Linked DNA regions of Homo sapiens. The protein of the gene in region 2 interacts with the protein of the main gene of each other region in a biochemical or structural test. Each region holds a gene or a part of one and is shown on either strand. Other genes may lie near its edges.

Region 1 (3,754 bases), on a different chromosome or scaffold from region 2:
CTTAGCAATTTTCAAGCATATATATATTTTTGTTTGTTTGTTTGTTTTTGTTTTTGAGACAGGGTCTTGCTCTGTTGCCCAGGCTGGAGTGCAGTGATGCAATCTTGGCTCACTGCAACCTCTGCCTCCCGGGTTCAAGTGATTCTCATGCCTCAGCCTCCTGAGTAGTTGGGATTACAGGCATGCACCACCACGCCTGGCTAATTTTTGTATTTTTAGTAGAGATGGGGTTTCACCATGTGGGCCAGGCTGGTCTCAAACCCCTGACCTCAGATGACCCACCTGCCTCAGCCTCCCAAAGTGCTGGGATTACAGGTGTGAGCCACAGTGCCTGGCCTCAAGTATATATTTTTAACTATAGTCACCATATAGTATAATAGATCTCCTGCACTTATTCCTGCTGTCTAACTGAAATTTTGTATCCTTTGGCCAAAATCTTCCAATTCTTTCTCTCTCATCCCCTGGTAACCACCATTCTGCTACTTCTACAAGCTTGACTTTTTTAGATGCCACACATAAGTGAGATTAAGCAGTATTTGTTTTTCTGTGCCTGGCTTATTTCACTTAGCATAATGTCCTCCAGGTCCATCTATGTTGCTGCAAATGACAGGATTTCCTTATTTTTTAAGGCTGAACAGTATTCCATTGTGTGTGTGTCTGTGTGTGTGTGTGTGTGTGTATCTATATCTCACATTTTCTTTATTCATTCATCCATTGGCATACATGTAGGCTGTTTCCATGTCTTGGCTATGGTGAATAATGCTGCAATGGATATGGGAGTACAGATACCTTGACATGCAGATATCATTTCCTTTGGATATATACCCAGAAGTGGATTATTGGATCATATGGTAGTTCCATTCAAAAATTTTTAAGGAACCTCCATACTATTTTCCAAAATGGCTGTACTAATTTACATTCCCACTGACAGTGTACAGGGTTTTTCTCCACATCCTTGCCAATGCTTATCTCGCTTTTTGATAATAATCATTCTGACAGGTGTGAGGTGATATCTCATGGTAGTTTTAATTCACATTTCCCTGATGATTAGTGATGTTGAACATTTTTTTCACATACCAGTTAGCTATTTGCATGTCTTTTTCTTTTGTTTTTCTTTTTTTTTTTTTTTTGAGACAGAGTCTTGCTGTTGCCCAGGCTGGAGGGCAATGGTGTGATCTTGGCTCACTGCAACCTCCGCCTCCTGGGTTCAAGTGATTCTCCTGCCTCAGCCTCCTGAGTAGCTGGGAATACAAGCGCCCGCCACCACGCCCAGCTAATTTTTGTTTTTTTAGTAGAGACAGGGTTTCACCAGGTTGGCCCGGCTGGTCTCGAACTCCTGACCTCAGGTGATCCACCCGCCTCGGCCTCCCATGCTACTTGCATGTCTTCTTTTGAGCAATGTCTTTTCAGGCCCTTGTCCACTTATCTGATGTAGGGGTCGTGAATATTTTCTCCCATTCCGTAGGTTGTCTCTTTACCTTTTTTTTTTTTTTTCCAGACGAGGTCTCACTCTGTTGCCCAGGCTGGAGTAAAGTGGCACAATCACGGTCACTACAGCCTCAACTGTCTGAGCTCAAGTGATTCTCCTACCTCAGCCTCCCAAGTAGCTGGGACCACAGGCGTGTGCTATCATGCCCAGCTAATTTTTTGATTTTTTTGTAGAGTTGAACTCTCACTAAGTCACCCAGTTTAGTCTCGAACTCCTGAGCCCAAGCAATCTTCCCACCTAGGACTGTCAAAGTGTTGGGATTACAGGCATGAGCCACCGCACCAGGCCAGAAACTCTACGTTTGATTCTAACCACAGCAGCTTAGCAGCTGAGGACAAACTGTTGGGATATTTTGGTCTCAGTCAATGGCAGCCAGGTTACCAACCCTGACAAGATACAAGTTTTCTTCGTTGGGTTCCTGGTACAAAAGTCAACCTTTTCAGTTACTTATGAATGAAAGGGCATGAAGATTGTGCTATTAGTTTATCCTGAAGGTCAATCTTCAAAAATACTGGTTCAACATGGATTTGGATATTATTAATATAAATTTATGGCTTAAAGAGGACAAAAGGTGTTTTTTTGGGTTCCTTTACAGAGATATTTAGTGAGGGAACAAGGCACTTAGTCATCTTTGCTATGACAGGTTAAATACAAGGTGTACTGGGAACATGTAAGAGGGTGACTTAACTCAGCCATTGGGGGGTCAGGAGAAGTGTTCCTAAGGAAGTGATGTCTAAGTGAGGTAGGCAGTACCTTGGCAAAAAAAACCTTGAAGTTAAGAGTGCATATGAGAAATGAAGGTATGTCCACCTGGCTGGCAAATGGAGTCTAAGATAGGGCAGTGATGATAAAGATATAGGAAGATGCTAGATCTGGAAGGGCCTTCTAAAAAGAATGACAATATAAATTTATTGTACAAATGGAGACTTTACTGAGAGTGAAACCAGGCAATATTAATACTTAGGTAGGGACAACAGATATAAACCAGGCTATTCTCAGCAAATCAGAAATTATGGTCACCCTACTTGTAAGTCACATTCAGGTGCTTAGACTTTCAGTGAAAGCATAGAGTATGTATCTTCTACATTTTGCCTAAGTGACTTCATTCTTTTTTTTTTTGAGACAGAGTCTCGCTCTGTTGCCCAGGCTGGAGTACAGCGGCACGATCTCAGCTCACTGCAAGCTCCACCTCCCAGGTTCACGCCATTCTTCTTCCTCAGCCTCCTGAGTAGCTGGGACTACAGGCGCCCACCACCACGCCCGGCTAATTTTTTGTATTTTTAGTTGAGATGGGGTTTCACCATGTTAGCCAGGATGGTCTCGATCTCCTGACCTCGTGATCCGCCCGCCTCAGCCTCCCAAAGTGCTGGGATTACAGGCGTGAGCCACTGCACCCAGCCAGTGACTTCATTTTTACTTTTGCCTTTACTTACTCATTTCACAAGTATTTGAGGATACACTTCAGAGCACTGAGGTTACAAAGACAACAGTGTCTGTCCTCAAGGTCTGTCTAGGTAAGACACACAGCCAAATAAACAATTCTAATACAGTTATACAGTTTTAGTTCTGACACCTCCAATGAGCTGTAGACTTGTATTTGTCATTTCCAGTCAGAATGCAAAACACAGATCCAAAACAGAACTTTCAATTTCTCCTCCAAATCTATTCTTCCTTCAGCTGGTCGTGTAAGTGATGCCACTATCACATCCACTTAAGACAAAAACCCAGAGGAGTACTGCCTTAATCAGTAATCAGTGTTACCCTTCTTCTCACTGTGCATGTTAATTTTGCCACATCTTTTTTTTTTTTTTTTTTTTTGGTACAGTGTCTCACTCTGTCACCTAGGCTGGAGTGCAGTGGTGTGATACTGGGTCAATGCAGCCTCAACCCTCTGGGCTGAAGTGATCCTCTCACCTCAGCCTCCTAAGTAGCTGGGACTACAGGCATGCGCCACTACACCTGGCTAATTTTTGCAATTTTTGTAGAGACGAAGTTTCACCATGTTGCCCAGTTCTCATGCCTCCTTGAACTCCTGAACTCAAGTGATCTGCCTACCTTGGCTTCCCAAAATGCAGGGATCCCAGGTGTGAGGCACCGTGTCCTGCCCTCTCCACATCTTTCTTAAGCACACTGACTAAATTGGTCTAAGTAGAGCCTAACATCAACTGAAGGGAGAGGGTAATTTCCAGGTAGTTGAATGCTATGATTTTTGTTTTTTTGTTTTTGAGACAGACTCTTGCTCTGTTGAACAGGCTGGAGGGCAGT
Region 2 (3,754 bases):
CAGTTCAGCCCTTAGGGGGAAATCGGAGACTCTTTAAATGTTGCCCTTTGCTTGTACTGAGCATTTGGTATTTTGCATCTTCTCTAAGTTATTGAGACCCAGAGCAACTGTGCCCAGTTAACCAAAATTCAGTAGCTGGATTGAATTCTCAGAAGTCTGCAAGGTTGCACAATAGGATAGTCATCCTTTGAAATGAATGAATTCCACAGAACTGCCACTCTTGTATGAAATATGCACAATCACCCAGCAGTGAATATTTTCATTCCTTTTGCTCAACTTCAGTACAGCATTTTAATATTTTTCAAAGGCTGGAGATGCTTTTAAGTATAGGGACTCTGCAGCCAAATTCTGCAGGGGCATCTGGCTGTTACTTCTTTGTTTAAAATCAGAGGTGACTCTGGCCTCTGCTCATTCTTTCTCCAGATTTTGCAAGACATATTTCACTTTGGGCTGACCTTACAGTGTCATTTGCAGACTTGTGCTCTGGCCTCAAATTGGACTTAATCTGCTGGTTTAGTTATTGCAAAGATTGAATCAGCCCCTCACCAATTACAGTGTGGCTGCAAGTGGATTTAAGTGCAGTATCATTGTTCTGCTTGACAGAGGTCATCCCTTTAAGACACAGCAGCTTCTGTTTTCCTGACTTTTTACCATAGATGATGTGGGTGACTTCTTATGCAAGCATAGTTGTGTATCTCCGAAGAAGCTCCAAGAGAGTTTTATAAGGCTGCTTCTCTGAACTGCCCTGAGAGATATATATGCTGTGGTCTCTTAGCTTACTTTAAGGCTCAGTGAAATCTACACATTGAATCTAGTTCCTTTTGATGTCTTAGAATAGAAGGCTCATGTTTCCTAGCTGTGTGTTGACCAATGAAAAAATTCTTTGCAAAAACAGATCAAATGTAAAGATGCTATTTATTATAGGGGACTGCGTAGAGAATTCCATAGGACACTATTTGGAGGAATAGAGATTCCAGAGTCATTTAAACAAAATAATCAAGGCTGCTTATTGTCTCCATGTACCTACTTTTGCTAGATGAATGAAGGCACTTTAAGGAGTCTTTAACTGTATGTTTTCATGGAGATACTGGTAGCTACTGTGCAGATTGACATAATTACTATCTTGGCAGAATGGGTACTTTTTTTTTGCAAATGTTATTAATGATGGCCTAATCTTACTGCCTTATCTGAACTGTCACATTACATAACCAAGGCTCCAAATTAAACATGTAAAGAAGCTGGCACCAGGCTTGTGGCTTGATTTTGCACGTGAAGATGATGGTTTAAATACCAGTCCAAGCCCCTAAATGCCCCTGATAGCTACTAATAAAAGTTTGGCTCCTTCTCGTGTGGGAAAACATAAGTACTTATTTTATTTTTCATACTCTGTCCACCATCTTGGAATTTGGTCTCTTCTACAAAAGGTATGGCTACATTTGAAGCTGCCACAAATATGTTAGTTTTTTAAAAATTCTGTCTCCAGTTTTTCAGCAGTGGAGCAGGATAATAGGCTAAAAGTGCTGAGCAAAAGTCACCTTTTATGTTTTTGTAAATGCACCTGGAAACAGGAAGTAGATTATAAATAATCATAACTCTGTGAGCACTGGCGACAGAAGCTGCAACCTGGTATTTCAGAACACAGCATCTTCATTATATGATGCAGTGTTTACGTTAGCCACTGCAAAGCTTATTACTCCTCGAAATTTTTGAGGCTTCCCTGGGTTTCTGTTGCCTGCATTCAGGGTGTTAAAGTTGATTCAAGCATTTCAGATTCCTAATTGAACAGGCCTCTTAGGTCACTGCTCTTGGGTCATCATTTGACAGTATCAGTGTGTGATTTGTGGTCTCTGGAGATGTTGAAGTATTCTTTCTTAAATTCTAGGTTATAGTGGCAGCAGCTGTGCCGCTTTTCTGAGATGCCTCGTTATGGTTCATTCACAACATTACTGTTAACTTTGCTTCCTTGGCCGTGTTAGCAGCAACTCTTGAGGTTTTACATCCCTGTTTGACTCACAGATTTTGTTTCAATTTTTTGAAGCTTAGAGCAACTTAACTCATGGATTCTTAAATAGCAGTCTGTGGCTTTGGATGGGCTTCAGAAAGCCCGTGAATCCCCTTAAAATGAATCCGGTATCGTGCATGCATTTGAGAACGGGCATTGTCAGCTAAGAGGGAACAGAGCTTTTATCAGATTTTATGTGACATCAGGACCCAAAAAAGGTTAACACTGTTCTAAATCAACATCTTCATTTTATGAAGAGGAGGGAGGTCCAGTAACCCTAAGCTCTTTATCCATCTCATCCAGATTATTGGTGGCAGGGCCAGGATTAGTGCCTCAAGGTTGCCGACTTCCAGTCCAGCATATTTCCTACCACACTGCAAAATGATGATGAAAGAAAGTATGTCTAACTAGTGAAAAAGCGATTTAGGCAGCTAAATCATTGTGAACTGATAGCATGCAGTGTATTGTTAGGGCGTTCCTGCCTCAGATGCTTTCCAGCGAAGCTCACCCACGCATGCCCCTGGCTCACGCACACACTGAATAGATTCATCTTACCCACATCCCAGGCAGATAGAAAAACCACATTCCAGACCCAGGGACTTGTATTCCTGATTTAGTGGAGGTCTTGAAATGAATGAAAGCGCCTTTTATATAACCTCAAAAATTCTCTGTAGTGTTAATTGCTGTTAGGTCTGTTTCAAAAGGTATTGATGGTGCCTTTTCTTTTTAAGCAACCGCACAATGAGTTGGCATTTTGCAGGCTAATTTTGATTCATAGAAAATCATTGCATAACTGGTTCATTGAGTTAGATATCTGTGGAGGGAAGAGAGGAAGAAGCAAGGCTGCTTCCCTATTCAGAAGGATTCTATCATATTCCTACCTCTGCCACTGGGGGCTTGAGTTTTGGCTCATTCTCTGAGCCTCAGTTTCCATATCTGTAAAATGAAAGTATTGAATTAGAGACCACTGGGCAAAAGCTAGCTGTTTATTCTCTTAGTTGCTCATGTGTTGTATAATGCCTGTTTATGTGCATTTCTTTTTTTTTATTTTTGAAGGCAAATAAAGTGTTGTTGATGTCATTGAGGTGGATCACTTTCTCTCCAATTTTGCCTTAGTTCTATAAACACGCAATTGGGCTAGAGACAAAAGTAATGAAAATTATTATTTCTGTACTGCATTACGTTTTGCAAAGCACTATCACCTTCATTTTCTCATATAATCCTCCTAACACTGTGAGTCAAGTATCAGTTTCCCATGTTGTACGTAAAGATTTGGAGGCTCCGAGAGGTTAAGTGACTTGTTTAGTGCCACACAGCTGGTAGGAGGCAGGGCCAATGTGGTCTGGGTCCAAGTTCAGCATATTTTCTGTCATCTCAAAAGCCCATACCTGTGGGAGGTGCAGCATTATGTGTTTTGGTTGTACAAGAGGCACCTCTGACTTTGGTCTTACTGTTAATCCTGTCGTAGGTGTTTGATATCAGCTGCTACCAGGAATCCCTGGCACCGTGCTTTTGCCTGTCTGCTCATAGTAACATCAACCAAATCACTGAAATTATCCTGGGTGAGACCAAAGCCTATGTGTTCTTTGAGCGAAGCTATGGGGACATGCATTCCTTCGTCCGCACCTGCAAGAAGCTGAGAGAGGAGGAGGCAGCCAGACTGTTCTACCAGATTGCCTCGGCAGTGGCCCACTGCCATGACGGGGGGCTGGTGCTGCGGGACCTCAAGCTGCGGAAATTCATCTTTAAGGA

The links. The genes of interacting proteins can lie anywhere in the genome.
Region 1: the proteins of TRIB2 (region 2) and ACACA form a complex in vitro, tested with the Homo sapiens proteins (one study listed by BioGRID).

The regions. Positions count from the first base shown.
Region 1 is NC_000017.11:37,400,083-37,403,836, forward strand, and holds part of ACACA (acetyl-CoA carboxylase 1), read right to left. Parts: intron 1-3,754. UniProt on the Homo sapiens protein: Cytosolic enzyme that catalyzes the carboxylation of acetyl-CoA to malonyl-CoA, the first and rate-limiting step of de novo fatty acid biosynthesis.
Region 2 is NC_000002.12:12,719,790-12,723,543, forward strand, and holds part of TRIB2 (tribbles homolog 2), read left to right. Parts: intron 1-3,470; coding exon 3,471-3,754.